3 separate regions of the Homo sapiens genome follow, and regions 1 and 3 are each linked to region 2. Evidence: fine-mapped expression QTL. A gene starts in region 2. Each other region holds a variant in brackets. All regions are shown on one strand. Distances are between the middles of the regions.

The links. PIP is the estimated chance that this variant, and not a neighbour inherited with it, causes the effect.
Region 1: its variant is the best candidate, but not a certain one, in a credible set for the expression of FREM1 in lung (GTEx, PIP 0.61).
Region 3: its variant is the best candidate, but not a certain one, in a credible set for the expression of FREM1 in anterior cingulate cortex (GTEx, PIP 0.54).

The regions. Positions count from the first base shown.
Region 1 is chr9:14,881,511-14,886,741 of GRCh38, forward strand. The region is part of intron 1 of FREM1 (FRAS1 related extracellular matrix 1); the gene reads right to left. Among named protein-coding and RNA genes, the nearest start is that of FREM1, 26 kb to the right of the region's middle. The variant A/G (reference allele first, on the strand shown) is at 2,714.
Region 2 is chr9:14,907,627-14,912,857 of GRCh38, forward strand. It overlaps FREM1 (FRAS1 related extracellular matrix 1), which reads right to left and starts at 2,802. Exons shown (of 37, transcript NM_001379081.2): 1 at 2,288-2,802. RefSeq lists enhancers at 1-116, 1,066-1,567.
Region 3 is chr9:14,888,196-14,893,426 of GRCh38, forward strand. All of the region lies in intron 1 of FREM1 (FRAS1 related extracellular matrix 1), which reads right to left. Among named protein-coding and RNA genes, the nearest start is that of FREM1, 20 kb to the right of the region's middle. The variant T/C (reference allele first, on the strand shown) is at 2,075.

The DNA.
Region 1 (5,231 bases), 26 kb before region 2:
TGGAACAACTTGATCAAAATCTTCTATTTCATGTAAACAATTTAGAATGCCAAATAAGCTCCTCTCAGATAGATTGTTAAAATAATATAGCAAATGTTTCCTTCGTTTCACTTATGATAACTTAGTAACTCTCTTCCAATATCTATCTCTGACAGGAATGTCTATTTGTCCCACAACATCCAACCTCACCTTCCTCCATAGAAATAAAAATTTTAACTAGGTATATAGTCACCCAGAACAAAGACTATATTTCACAGTCTCTCTTGTAGCTATCTGCGGCTATGTGATCAGATTCTGGCCAATGGAATTGAAGAAGAGCAGTCACATGGTGTCTCTGAGAAACCTCCTTTAAGAGGTAGTTACGGTGTGCCTCTTCTCCCTTTTTCTTTATGCTTCCCTCCATCTTGTTGCCAAGATGGAAGGTGCTGCCTTGCACATGAAAAAATGAGGCTATGGCATAGGTTGGTGGAGCTGTGAGCTAGAAGGACCCTGGGTCTCTGGGCCATTTGCAAAGCAGAACCACCATACCAGTCCATTCATCCAGAATTTTACACAGGAGAGAATGTAAACTTCTTTCCTATTTAACTCACTGTTATTATTTTGTGTGTGTGTGTGTGACTCATGACTGAACTTAACTATACCTTTAATAATCACTTCTTCTTCAAGTTTTTGTATTAATTTTGTTTAGTCACTAATCAGCTAAAGATTTAACTTCCTACCTAACAGCATATGGGACAATAGTTCATTCTCTAATTATATCATAGTAAACCCTTAACTGAGAGATAAGGTCAAAGTCCAAGATCCTAATGTTTATCTGCCAGGAAGAGACAAGAGAAGAGAGGAGATATCTATTCTTATGGCTCCCTGCACCACAATGCTGTTGAAAGAATAGACTTGAATTTTGAATATCTGGATTCTAATCCCGATTATTATTTTTTTAATTTTCTTCTTATCTTTTTTTTTTTTTTGAGATGGATTCTTGTTCTGTCACCCAGGCTGCAGTGCAGTAGCACAGCCTTGGCTTACTGCAACCTCCTGGGTTCAAGCAATTCTCCTGCCTCAGCCTCCCTAGCAGCTGGGATTACAGGTGCCCGCCACTACGCCTGGCTAATTTTTGTATTATTTTTAGTAGAGATGGGGTTTCACCATGTTGGCCAGGCTGGTCTCAAACTCCTGACCTCAAGTGATCTGCCCGCCTCAGCTCCCAAAGTGCTGGGATTACAGGTGTGAACCACTGCACCTGGCCATGGATTCTAATCCTGATTTTTATGAACATACTTTCCTCTTTCAAAAATGGGAGGCTGAAGCAGGAGAATCGCCTGAACCTGGGAGGCAGAGGTTGCAATGAGCTGAGATCATGCCACTGCACTCCAGCCAGGGCAGCAGAGCGAGACTCCATCTCAAAAAAAAAAAAAAAAGGAATCACCCATCTTGCCTCCAAAGTTCCCCTGTCAGACCAATAATCTATGTGGAAATATTTTCTTAATTACAAACCCCCATACAAATGTTAACATTATTATTACAAAATATATCAAAGAGACAAGAAAGTAAAGCTTTCTCAGGAAAAACAGAGTAGAAGGAATTGGGCCTGGATGAAGGTGGCAAGGTGGCAAAATTAGGTTCAATAAATGTCAAATAGAGTCTGTTTTATTTACATTCTAATTTTTTCTTTCTCATAGTCTTACAACAGAATACATATTAAAAAACTAAATTTTGATATTTCAAAAACAACCTGAAGCAACACAGTTAGGAGGGGGGAAAAGTACAAGAGTAACAATTTCCAAATTCAAAATCAAACAAAACTCATCCTTCAATCAACTGAGCCTAGACTGAAGGCTGCAGAATTAGAAGCAATAAAGATCAAAAAGGGTATGCTTTGTTTGGTTTTATTTGCATTCTAATTTTGCTCTTGTATTTTTCTCTTGGTGTTGGGAAACACCAAGTATGTGGACATTCCATGGAAAATACTGCTCTTATTTTTGGCTTCAAGAAGGTGGCATGGGAGGGGAAAGAGAAAAGAATTCAGACGAGCAGACCGAGAAAGGGCCAGAAGAAAAACAGAACAACAGCAAAGCAAAGCAAAATTCTGAAGCAAACAAGATTTCACAGTGATGATGGGTCTTTTAACACCTCAAAATGAGACGGTAATAACTGTCTTGTCTCTGACACAAAATTACTATGTCCAGTGACAGCCAACTTCTACATGAAAAACAACACTCTAATGGGAAGCCTAGCACATCTTGAGAATTTTATTTTCTTAGTCCCAGCATAGGGCTAAGTCAGAGCCTCAGAATCCATCTGTCCACAGCTTGCTCTGATTGCTAGTATGGGCACCCTCAGGGTCGGCAGAATTATTGGGGGCAGCTAGAAGTGGAAGTAGAAAGGGCACCTGGCCATATTCCCCAAGGGAGCTTGTAAACTGACTTTTAGCCACCTCGGACTTGATTCAAATCCTTGAAACAAATCCTGGCGCTTTGGGAGGCCCAGGCAGGCGGATCACCTGAGGTCAGGAGTTCGAGCCCAGCCTGACTAACACGGCGAAACCCTGCCTCTACTAAAAATACAAAAATCAGCCGGGCGTGGTGGTGGGTGCCCATATTCCCAGCTACTTGGGAGGCTGAGGCAGGAGAATCTCTTGAACTTGGGAGGCGGAGGTTGCAGTGAGCCAAGATCGCGCCACTGCACTCCAGCCTGGGCGACAGAGCGAGACTCC[A/G]TCTCAAAAAAGAAAAAAGAAAAAAAGAAAAAAAACAAGAAACAAATCCTGTCTTGGCTTGCTTGTGTGGCTCAGCTGTTTCTTAACATTTCGAAATCCTCCTGACATGACTGCAAATCAGTTCTGCTCTCCCTGACCATTTTCCCACCATTGCCTTTTTTCTTTACATGGTAATCATGTATTCTAAGTACAGTATATCTGTATAAGCCAATAAACGCCAATAAAGCTGTGTGAAAATTCTTTCTGAAATGTGAAAAAACACGCTGTTTTGAATTCTTATGAAAATTCATAAAGATTTCTTCAACCAAACTTTTTGGGAAATTTTTTGAACAGAAGAAAATAATTTAGTAACATAATTGGTGGAGGGGAAATGTGAGCTAGTATTTATTTCATAATTACACATTCAGCTTAACTATATGAGCATGTATTCTTCATGTTGATATAAACATGATACTCCTGTCACTAATTTGAGATAATCTGTGCACAACAAGAAAAAAAATGGATCTCAGCTGTACAGCTCTCAATGCAATGGAAATTCTTAACGGTCAATGGTAATGACGTGCCTTGATGAAAATAATATTTACTATTCTTCCTCTCTGGAATTTTGCAATGGTAGCTACCCAACACAAGGCAAGTGCCTTCCCCCTCCTATGCCCAGCATAGTTATCAAGATATCAATAATTCATCATAGCTTTTTTTTTTTTTTTTTTTTTTTTTTTGAGACGGAGTCTCGCTCTGTCGCCCAGGCTGGAGTGCAGTGGTGCGATCTCGGCTCACTGCAAGCTCCGCCTCCCGGGTTCACGCCATTCTCCTGCCTCAGCCCCCCGAGTGGCTGGGACTACAGCTGCCCGCCACCGCGCCCGGCTAATTTTTTGTATTTTTACTAGAGATGGGGTTTCACCGTGTTAGCCAGAATGGTCTCGATCTCCTGAGCTCGTGATCCACCCGCCTCGGCCTCCCCATCATTGCTTTTTATTTTCTTTGCTTTTTGCAGAATTCATATGTGGCCCAAAACTCTTCTCATTAGTGATCTAGGTAGTTATCACCATTTGACTAAAGATGACATAAGCAATGGAACATTTTTGTCTTCCCCAGGCTTGCAGTTATTACCCCTTGACTCACACAATTATTTATTGTTCGTTTTTACTTATTTTTAATTGAAAAATAAAATTGTGTATATTTATGATGTACAACATGATTTTTGTTTGTTTTAGAGACAGGGGTTTCACCCTGTCGCCCAGGCTAGCATGCAGTGGTGCGATGATAGCTGACTGCAGCCTCCAATTCCTGGGCTCAAGCAAGCCTCAGCTCCAGCCTCCCAGGTACCTGGGACTACAGGCATGCACCACCACATCTGGCTAATTGTTTTTTAATTTTCATAGGGATGGGAGTCTCACAATGTTGCCCAGGCTGGTCTTGAACTCCTGGTCTCAAGCTATTCTTCCATCTTAGCCTCCCAAAGTTCTGGGATTACAGGTGTGAGCCACCAGGTTAATGACTTAATTTAGCTGTTTTGCAATATATACATACACTGTTGTGTCATGATGTTTTGATATACATATACAATGTGAAATAGCTAAATCAAATAACTAACATATCTATTACCTTACATATCTTCTTTTTATGAGGAGAACATTTAAAATCTACTCTCTTAGCAATTTTCAACTATACAATACAATGCTGTTAACTATAGTAGTCATGTTGTACAATACATCTCCTTCCTTTGGACTAACTGAAATTTTGTATCCTTTGATCAGCACCTCCCCAGTCCTCCCTCCTCCCCAGCCCCTGGTAACCACCTTCTACTCTCTACTTCTATGAGAACAACTTTTTCACAACTTTAGGTCTTACAAGTACCCTAAAGTCATTTAAGAAATAAACTGCTGTGTGCGGTGGCTCACGCCTGTAATCCCAGCACTTTGGGAGACCAAGGTGGGCGGATCACGAGGTCAAGAGATTGAGACCATTCTGGCCAACATGGTGAAACCCTGTCTCTACTAAAAATACAAAAATGAATTGGGCATGATGGCACACGCCTGTAAATCCCAGCTACTCGGGAGGCTGAGGCAGGAGAATCGCTTGAACCCTGGAGGCGGAGGTTGCAGTAAGCCGAGATCGTGCCACTGCACTCCAGCCTGGTGACAGAGTGAGACTCCGACTCAAAAAAAAAAAAAAAAAAAAAAAAGGAAAAAGAAATAAAATACGCTAACAGAGAAATGGCATTTTAACTGAAAATAGCCACTTCAGGATGAACCCACCCAAACGGAAGAGATTTTTGAAATCCTCAACAAGATGGTGAAGAAAGCCAATGAAGATTTTCTGACTTCTACTCCACATTATAATCTTTAAAATGCTAGTCAGAAGCTAAACTTAGAAGTTATCAATAGAATGTACAGGGGCGGTGGCTCACTCCTTTAATCCCAACATTTTGGGAGGCCAAGGAAGGTGGATGACTTGAGCCCAGGAGGTCAAGACCAGCCTGGGCAATATGGTGAAACCCCACTCCTACAAAAAAAAA
Region 2 (5,231 bases):
GGCTACATGCCCTGAAAAGATTACACTTGTCTAACTCAATATTCCTGTGGTCATGGTGCTTTGTGAGAGAAAAAAATACATCTGAAAATTTTTGAAGAAAAGCAATTAGCGAAATCTTTAGGCCTATTCTCAGAGTAAATGCTGAAAAGCTCTCATAGCCCATATCTGTGTTTAGAAGACTGAGTCATATCCATCAATGTCAGAATATCAGAGCTAGGAAGATACCAAAACTCATTTAATTCAACTTATTTTACTGATGAGGAAGTGAAGCTTTGAGGGGTTAGATGGCTCTTCCAAGGCTGGTTAGCAACAACTAAGATTTGAAACACCATGAGGACAAGGACCCTGCCTGTGCATGCCATCCCCAGTGGGCATTCTGAAATCCTTAAAAACTATCACAGAGCCTGGCATGTAGCAGGTGCACCTAAATGTTTGGAATGAGGAAAGAAAAGAAAGCAAGGGGCTCTGATGGCCATGTCCAGTTTTCTTTTTAATATAAATATTAAACGCCAGAAAATGCAAGGATGGGGATGGAAGCTGAGCTCTGACTTTCACATATTGTGAAATGAGAATTTTAACACCATGGAAGAATCATTTTCTGTTTCTTCTCATCCCTGTGGGATGGTCCAATCCAAAAATCATTTTCTAGGAATGAGGCTCCTGAACCATTCCATGAAATCAAGCTCAGTTTACCCAAACTCAGCCTCGCCCAACCCCTACAGCCCAGCAGCCCCAGGAGGCTGGGAAAGAATTAAGAACAGTCCTGGGTTTAAAGTTTCCAAAACAAACATTGCTTAGCCATGCGGGGGCAGATCAGGCCATATAGCCCAACATGTGAAAGCAGGGAACATGGTAGTCAGGTCCCTTTGCCCAACTCCTTTTTTCCCTCGTGGGAATGAAAAGGCAGAGATGAAAAGGGAAGCAAGAAAAAAAAAAGATGAGGTTGGTGGAAAACTGATTAAAAAGCCCTGGTTTGCCAGCCAAGCATGCAAAACCATGTTGCACATTAAGTTATGCTCAACAACAGCTCAAACTCAGGTTTCTTATTTAGATATAAGGTTTAATATTAACCAAGTACATGACAAGAATTTCATGTCAAGGACAATGTAGAGCAATGTTTACCCAAGTGTGACCCACCTGCTTCAGAATCACCTGGGAAGATTCCTGGCACCACTCCAGGTCTAAAATCCTTTGGGCCTGGGAACTGAGAACCTGCCTTTCACCAAGCAAATGGGGGTTCTTACACACAGTCAGTTTTGAGAATGCCTGATGGAGAGAAACAGCAAAGTTTCCTAGAGCTGCACTGAAGGCACCTTTATCAAATGTAAGCAGGGGGCTGAGGCACAGCTCTTCAAGCTTTACCTAGAGTCAGGAACAGCGGGTGTCAGTTTTCCAGAGCAGAAACCTGAAGAGCATTCGAATCACTAGCTCTGTTCTGTGAAGCAGCACCACAGAGGTTAATCTCTCCAGTAAGATTCCCAGGCTATAAACACCAATTGGCTCCCAGAAATGCTCTTTTTAAGCTTTGTAATGCACACCAAGCAACAAGACTGGGTGCAATAGTTTAAAAAAAAATCAGAAACTAAAATTAAATACCTTAAAAACAATAAACAATTTCCATAAGCCAAAAATTGTTTCCTGGATTTCAAAATAAAATGAAAAGAAACTCTTTACAACAGCACCAAAGTCTCTGGACCAAATCTCAGTACTGAGCAGAGAGAGCCTAAAAATCAGTCCAAAAACTTCAGAACAAGGCCATTTCTTTGCCTCCCCAGCACTATCTCTCTTCCCCACAATGAAACAGAAATCATGTTTTTGAAAATATGTCTCCAAATATAACTAAACTTAAGCAAAGGTATCCAGACATTATCTCATCCAAATTTCTCTATGTTTGTACCATGAGGATATTATCTGTTCTGTTCATTTTTGTGTCTTTTCCCTTTGCCATTTCATTTAGCTGAGAAGAAACATTCTAATTTCAGAGGAAACAATTACACAGTTAAAAAATGGTTATTTCATTGGCAAGTGCCAGCACGGATGGACTGAGAAGAGTTAGAAATTTGTGTCACGTAATAAAAAGAATCTCAGTTTTGGCATTTGGTTTGTTAACACTGCAAGTTGCCATCTTCTGAGTTAACAGGAGAGTTAAACTTTTGCAAGCCTACTCTTGCAGATGCTTTGCATTGTTACTTGGCATTAATGATATCACACAAACAATCTCTGGGGCATTCTGCTAACAGAACATTCACAGTCACAATGAAAAGAAACACATAAAACAGATACTTACAGGTAGTGGTTTTCCTTTCCAAGACAAAAAGTTAGAAACCCTTGGAACTGGCGGGCAGGATAAGAGTCACTGACACAGCAATCTGGTTTAAAGGGCTTTGAGAGGAAGGGGGAGGAAAAAGAACCCCGGGAAGGAAGAGAGCTGAAATTCCAGTCTTTCAGGTCAGCTGTGTTTGAGATTTCTTTTTACTAAAAATCCATTAACCCACCTCACAGAAAATACAGAATTGAAGTTCACATACACACTCCACTTTCTTTGCTGGTCTTCTCCAAGGCAGCTGCTGCAGCTTTGCAAACTTCCTGAGCGCCAAGCCTCAGGACTCCCTGTGAGAAGGGCATGATAAAGATGCCTTCTACTGTTTACACAGAGCCCGACCTCCCTGGCGGACAGCCACCGCTAGCCCCGTGCCTTCTGCTGGTTGGGTCCGCAGGGACAAAACTGAGCTTTTGTTAATGAGGTCGGTTGCCTCTTCCCAGTCTCTTCCCAGCTTCCTTTCTCACTACTAGTTTTGTACTAACTGCTCCGCCACTCGCCGAGCCAGAGCAGCCTCTCCCGCCTGCAGCACACAGGCACACACACACTCAGACACAGGCACACACACATTCACAAATGGGCACACAGTCACATACAGACACACCCACTCACAGAGGTACACACACAGGCACACATACAAACACGATAGACACACAATCACCACACACAGACACATACACAGGCAAATGCCTTCACATGCATGCACACATAGTGACCCACCCCACACATGTGCATGCATTCTCACGCATGCTCCACACACACACGGGGGCACACACATACGCACAGGCCGCACATGCCCACACCCACACATGTACATACTCACACAGACTCTTCCAACACACTTTTTTTCTGCCCTTCTTTTCTTCCAACACATTCCCATCTTCAAAGGTTTTTATTTAAATTTAGATGAGAAGCCCAGCATTCAGAAGGGACAGGGCCCGTTTTAACTTTTGTCATGGCATTTAAGGGAAAAGATAGGATGGAACTAGATCCTAAGGTGCTGTTTTTAAGTACCACCTTAGTTCTTCCATTTGTAAGGCTTTTTGTGTGTCTGGCTCTTTTCGAAAACCCATAAAAATCCCATTAATCTGATCCATTTGCATATAGTGCGTGATCCCAATAATGCAGATATATCACTGGCCAAGAACTGTCCTCTCAACAGAGATTCACATAGTTAACTTGTCAGTATTCAGTGGTCTGTGAAAGTCTTAATCCTTAACAACTGTTTAATAAAATGCTTTCCTGTATTTTATTCCCACCAGGAAAAAAAAAGATAATGGCCTACCATCTGGCCTTCTAAATTAACCATAAAGAGAGAATTTGAAGTATTAACTCACTTTGGGGGAACTGTTTATATTAAGACATGTCTGGCTATCCTAAACCTTTGCCAAAAATATAGAACACTGTGAATCCAATTCAACCTAGATGTGGTTTCCCGTAACAAGGTCACAACACCATATGCCTTTCTTTGGAAGCCATAAGGAAAAGAGAGAGGAAAATGAAAAAGGAGAAGAAAATTACATGAGGAAGGAAGAAAGAAAAGAGAAAAATGTAAAGAAGAAAAGAATGCATAAGAAGGGAGAAAAAAATTATGTATTTTAAAAACATGCTTTGTGGTTACTTTAGCAATGAATGGTGCATATACACTTACTCAAAGTCATCGGAGATTTCAAATCTTCAAGAATTTCTTGATTCATTTTATTTGCTCTGAGAATAAGTAGGTGAAAGTTAAGAATCACTAAGCTCTTTATAAGTGAACAGATATTATTTACTAAACACAGTTATTATTAAATAAATATAGTGACAATGTGTGAGTCATATATTAATCCTGAAAAGGCAAGAAATAAAGCCTTAATAATGACAGTTAAGAAACACAGCATAATAGACAATTTTATTCCCCAACTGATTTTCAAAATTGCCCAGGTTGTGAATATCTTACCTGCAAAGAAATGAAGATGGTTTTAGAAGCTGTTAGTTGAGACTCGGATTCCATTTGACAAAGGAATTGTATACTATGTACAAACGGTTGCATCAACATGCTTATTCTAACATCTAAATAAGGTTTATAGATTAGTCTAGAAACTAATAAGGTTTATAGATTAGTTTATAGATAGATTATAAAGTTTATAGATAGATTAAGAGCTAAATAAGGTTTACAGATTAGTCTAGAAACAGAGATAAATGTCTTTATATCACTTCTATGGGAAAAATAACTTAAGCATGCTAAGCAAAAAATAACAAACTTAGATTGTAAAGTATTTCAAAAAGTCCGCAGGAGATATAATCTTTCCAAAGTTAATTATATACATGAAGCTTGGCCTAACTGTGCTGAACATATTCTGAAATAGGCAGTTAAGAGTTAGATCAGTCAAAATGTCCTGAAATCTGAAGTACCTGTTTATACAAATGTCATTCCTTCTATCTGCCACAAATGAATAAGGGCCTGGAAATAATACAATTATCAACTTCAATCAATAAAATACTGTTTGAACAGATTGAAATGCCAAGCTAGGGAATTTAAAAAGAACTAGTCAAAGAAACAACAAAGAATTCTTCCCCTAAAAGCATGTGCTGCTGAACTTAGTGCTGGCACAAAATTCATTTTTAAAGAAATCATTTTACTTCTAGCCCTAGTTGGAGTGATAATGAAAAATATCAAATGTGTGTTGGAGATTGGCATATCATTTTGGATTGTAAATATGAATGATTTTTGTTGAATTGCTGTAGAATGTAGCATTCTCTGAAAGGCATAGCCAATGCCTTCACCAACAATTCATATAAAAAATTAGGAATGTGCCTATTAAATTTTGACGATGGCAGCAGACAGAAGTGTTATCTATTGCAACGTAAAGATAGTTTTCCACTGAGTCTCTAACACTAGATGGCCATGGGAAGCAATACTATGGCAAGA
Region 3 (5,231 bases), 19 kb before region 2:
GATAATGATTTTATAGATTTGGAAAATGAGACATAAAGAGGTTAAGTAACTTGCCCAATGTCATCAGCTTGACCTTGTCATCGCAATTAGAGCCTGGTTTTGTCCAACTCCAAAACCCTTGCCCTTAACCACTACTGTTATATATACACTGCTTCACATCACACCAAAACCTTATACTCTTTGCAATCACTTCACTAGCCCTAAAGTTTTATTCCTATAGTATGCAGGAAATTTAACAACTTCCTTTATGGTTCCAGACAGCAATAGATACTATTCCAGAAGTTAATGTTTCACTAGAAACAATGTTCTCTAAAGGAAGTAGCTGCTGCTTTAAGAGCAAATAATTAAGAGAGATACCCTGTCTACCAGCATCTTCATGTTCCAACTGCTTACACTACAAGCCCAGGTTAAAGGTCTCAAGTCAAATAGGCCACTTCATAATTCTATTTTAAATCAATTAAATGTGTGTTGACTCACATTTAAATCAATAAAATGTGTGTTGACTCTGTCTATAACATTCTGCTTCCTCTTCTCTACAATGTTTTCTAATCCATAACCTACATCACACAATGTATGATTTTAGGAGAAACTTTAGAAATCATCGAGGCCATATTCTTCAGTTCATTTATCAATGTATTTGCTTTTTCTGAAAATAACTTTTTTTAAAATATGAAAGAAAGGCATGCTCATTAATTAAAGGACAAAAACACAGAAACATATAGAAAAAAAATATCCTTTTCAATACCCCCAAAGAGTTGTGTAGTATCCCTTTTTATTAACATAATGTTCTATTGTAAGCATTTTCTGTATTACTAAACATTCCTTGCAATTGTGCTTTTAATTTGTGCATTATAGCCACTAGATGGGTGTACTATAGTTGCTATAATCATCTCACTGCTACATTGAAGTAGTTACTATGTCAAAGATTGTGATAAAAAAATCCTTAAGTATAAATCGGTCTGTTTCTCTAGTTTATGTCTTTTGATTGATTTCCAGATGTGGAATTGTAAAGCTGAAGGGTGAGAACTTACTCTGAGGCTCTTGATATGCATGCTTTCTGGAAAGCTGGTACCAATTTCCACCCTCACCAGCCTTCCTCACATTCAACATTGCCCCTTTAATCTTTATTCATCTCCCAAGTGAAATGTATCTGACACTGTTTTAATTTGCACTTCCTTTGTTTATGTGGAAGGTTTAGTTTTTTTCCCTTTTATCTTAATGTCCCTTAGCCATTTGTGTGTTCTCTTCTAGGAATTCTTTCATTTACATAAGAGAGGAAGACCCATGGTCGTTAAATGCCTACCAAGACTACACAGCTACCTGGAAACCAAGGCTGGATGGGAATCTCAGTTCTGACACTAGACTAGTGCTATGTCCATTATCCCAGGTGGCTTCCTTAAATCACAGATGCTTATTCCAGAAATATTCCTTTCAGCATTTCCTTCCCAGATCTTCAGGAAGCTGCCAGACTCAGAACTCTGGAGAGGGAGCCCTCCCTCAGGCTATACTGTCATGAGTAGAGGGAAGGGAAAACTCCTTTCCTTCTATGCTCTTAGGTTGTCCGGGGCCTTGTAAATTAGACTGAAAAGAGACAAATTAACAAAGGGAAAACATAAAATTTATTGAATATAAGTGCCATGTGACGTGGGAGCCTTCATTAAAAAAATGAAGACAGAAAGAAACATTAAGCGTGAGCATTTTTATCCTAAGCTTGATGAAGAGTGGAAAGTTATGGGAAAATGTATTAGGACAAAGATGTGTGAGCTGAGGGTGGTAAACTGGGGGAAAGTGAGCAAGACCTGCCTGTGCAGATTCCCCATTGTGTCCCTCCATTCTTGGAGCTAAGGATACTCCTTTCCTCTGGGTATCAGGAGGGCACTTCTCTCACACAAGGGTACTGTAACCTGCTGTTCAGGGGAGAAGGTCAGAGAGTCTTTCCACCACATGCCACTTCTCAAATTCCTCCAGTTCAAAATATTCAATGTGCCAAGGCACCCTATTTGGGGATACCATGTTCTGAACCCCATGATGACCAAGGCTGCAAAGACAGACATACCTTTGCCTACAACACAAA[T/C]TCATTAGGTTTCCTTCCTTAGATTTCCAATAGCTCAAACTCTACCCTGCCATGTTTTGCAAACTGTGCTTGTGAAAATGAATATTTTGGAGACGTTAAAAGCTTGCCACAAAAAAAGTTCACCATACCCAAATACATTTGAAGCACAGAACGCTAAAATCACCTTCTAAAAATTCACAATATAATATGAGCATATTAAAGATTCTAAGAAGTCTTGCAGAAAGGAGCCTTTTTAAGCCCAAAGTCTGCAAACTTATGGAAAACGTTTTTTGTTCTTTTTCATTAAAACAAAACAAAACAAAACGGGTTCTTTGAGAAATCATTCAAGAGACTTAAAATGACTAAAATATAGAATGGCCAGAGGGTATCTAAAACATTTCTGGCCATGCCCGATAAATCTATACCTAATAAGTCTACTTCAGAAATTCAAATTCCAGGATATCCCTTGGAAACCAGACGTCTGCCTGTTTCTACAGAGGCCTTCTACTAAAACTACCTTCAAAGGTAGAGAAAACTGATTGCAGAGGGAAAAAATGTGTGCCCTCAACTTACAGTTCTGTTTTTAATGACTATCAAAGCCTCTTAAACCATCAAAAACATTTCCCTGAAGATTAGTTAGGAAATGGCCATAACTTAAAATCATGTTGCTTTCAGCCAGAGCGTTGTATCATACAATTTTCACAACAGGTTGCTTTAATTGAATAACTTAAGCAGAGTGAAAAACACTCACATTCATCATGGTGTGCCCCATTCTTCATCAGGGACCTACCGTGGGCATGTACCAAAACTCACACCTAGGGCCTTCCCCACCAGTGTCACGCCAACTGAAATTAATTTTCCTCTTCTTGAGTGAATTCTTCATTTCTTAATTTACAACAGAACAACACCAAACTGTGTAAAAGTGAGATTCTGTTTAAATTCGTATTAAATCATGTCCAGGAATTCATCTTTGAGACCAATTCAATTTTCAGAATGTATCTTGGCTTTTTGAGTATGACATATCATCTGTTCATTCATTGTACAAACAATTGCTGAGTACTCACTTAGGGACAAGTGCTACGTTAAGTGCTGGGATTGTGAAGACAAAAATGACAAAAAAAAATTCTTGCCCTTAGAGAGTGTACAGTGTAATTCAGAAAGACAAACATAAACTAATGATTCAAAACAGGCAGTAATGCCAAGCACAGGGGAACATGTCTGTAGTCCTAGCAACTGGGGAGGCTGAGGCAGGAGGATTGCTTGAGCCAGGGAGCTCAAGGCCAGTCTGGGCAACACAGCAAGACCCTGCCTCAGAAAAGCAAAACAAAACAGCAAGGGTGGTAAGTGCAGTAATGGTGAGATATATTTTATGGTATAGGACTAAATAGGAAGGCAGCATTTGACTCAAACTGGGCCTAGGGTACGCTTCCCAGAAGGGGAAAGAGTTAAATTTGAAAGAAAAATTAGTATTGAGAAAGGTGCATAGGAAAAGTAAGGGCATGTTTGAAGATGGAGAGAAAGAATGTAGCATAGTCAAAGAATCAACAAGTAGGTGTTATGTCAGAAGCAAGGAGTTTTTGTGAGAAAAAGTACAGGGGCACTGTGCAAGAAAAAGTTCAATAAGAGGTAACTTTAATCTTTAAGAGATTGAGGTCTTGTGGGAGGGAGATTTATAATCAGGTATTTTACAATACAAAATGGTATTTGCTGCCTGCTCTGTCTATGGAGTAGCCATTCTTTTATTCCTTTACTTTCTTAATTAACTTGCTTTCACTTTACTCTATGGACTCACCCTGAATTCTTTCTATCCTAAGGTATCCCTCTTTCTGAGTACCTAAGAACTTTCTGAGTACCTAAGAACTCTCTCTTGGGGTCTGGATTGGGACCCCTTTCCTGTAACATCTTTATGGTCACTACAGAAGGGACAATACTGAAAAAACCCCCCGACCCAAAGGCTAACTCTGGGTAAGTGGTGGGATCCAGTAACATTATTCTGCAAACCCCAAAGGGATGATACTGAAGAGGCTTCCAACCCAAAGGAAAATCATTTGCACACACAAATTGGCTGACTTTGGGTAGGTGGGGTGCATTTACCAGAGTAAATGACGGGATTGGGTTAGAAGCCCAACTAAGGAGAGTTAGAGTCTCTCCTAAGATAGAGTGGGTTAAAGGCCCCTCTTAATAAAAGGCAAGGACGCTTGACCGAACTTGGGTTTGAGACCCAACTTATGAAAGTTAGAGTCTTTCCTAAGATTTAGGGGGTTAGAGGCCCCTCCCAGTAAAGTCCCTCTCAGCTAAGAACGGGTTTGGCACTATAGGATGTTAACCACCATTTCTTTGGGTTAATCTGCCTTGCACTCTTTGCTGATGGCTGTGGGTGACAGAATTAGGCATGTACAGGATCATGGGACATGGGGACAAGTTTCCCCCTAAAGGGGAAACTTGAGAGCTGATGGAACTGCCATGAAAGATCCCTCTTCTACTGACAAGCTGCCGCCTGAACTTTTCAGTGTCGCTGCAATGGGTGGGTCTTTCTCTGGCCTCCCTGGGCTCTTCACCTTCCCCACTCTGCCCCAGGCAATGCTTTTCTCTCTCTCCTTTCCTTTTCCCGTCTTTACTATTACTCAGGGTGACCATCTTGCCCAGAGACCACGAGTTGAAATTCCTGGTCAGAGGTTGGATTAACAATGGCAGGGTCCAGCCGGGGGCACGTTTGAGCCTTGTCAGTTTGATACTAGGTGCTAAGCAGAGGGGCTAATGTCTGTGTTTTGTCACATGTATTTTACTCTGGCCTTCCTTCGTGTTGCGGCTTGGCCCCCAGAGCTGTGGTGCAGCCAGCCGGGTCAGTAGGGCCACTCAGAGAAAGGAAACCCTGAAGCCTGGCATGTCAGCAAAAGGGTAAGAATTTTGACTTCTCTCTTTCTCTCTCTCTCTCTCTGTGGTTGAATGAATGGTAAAAATTACTGTTTATCTCCTCTGTAAAGTTTTGATTAGTGGGAAAAAGAATTCGTGAGGCTAGTCTTAAACTGTAGTGAATCTGTTGTACTTTGTGCTATGAATTTGTCTTTCCATATCTTTCTGTCAGAAAGAGGGATACCTCAGGATAGAATGCGGGCCTAGGACCCCATAAGCCTGCTGTCTAAGACAGTCCAGCAAAACTGGTCAGTTATGTCCTTGG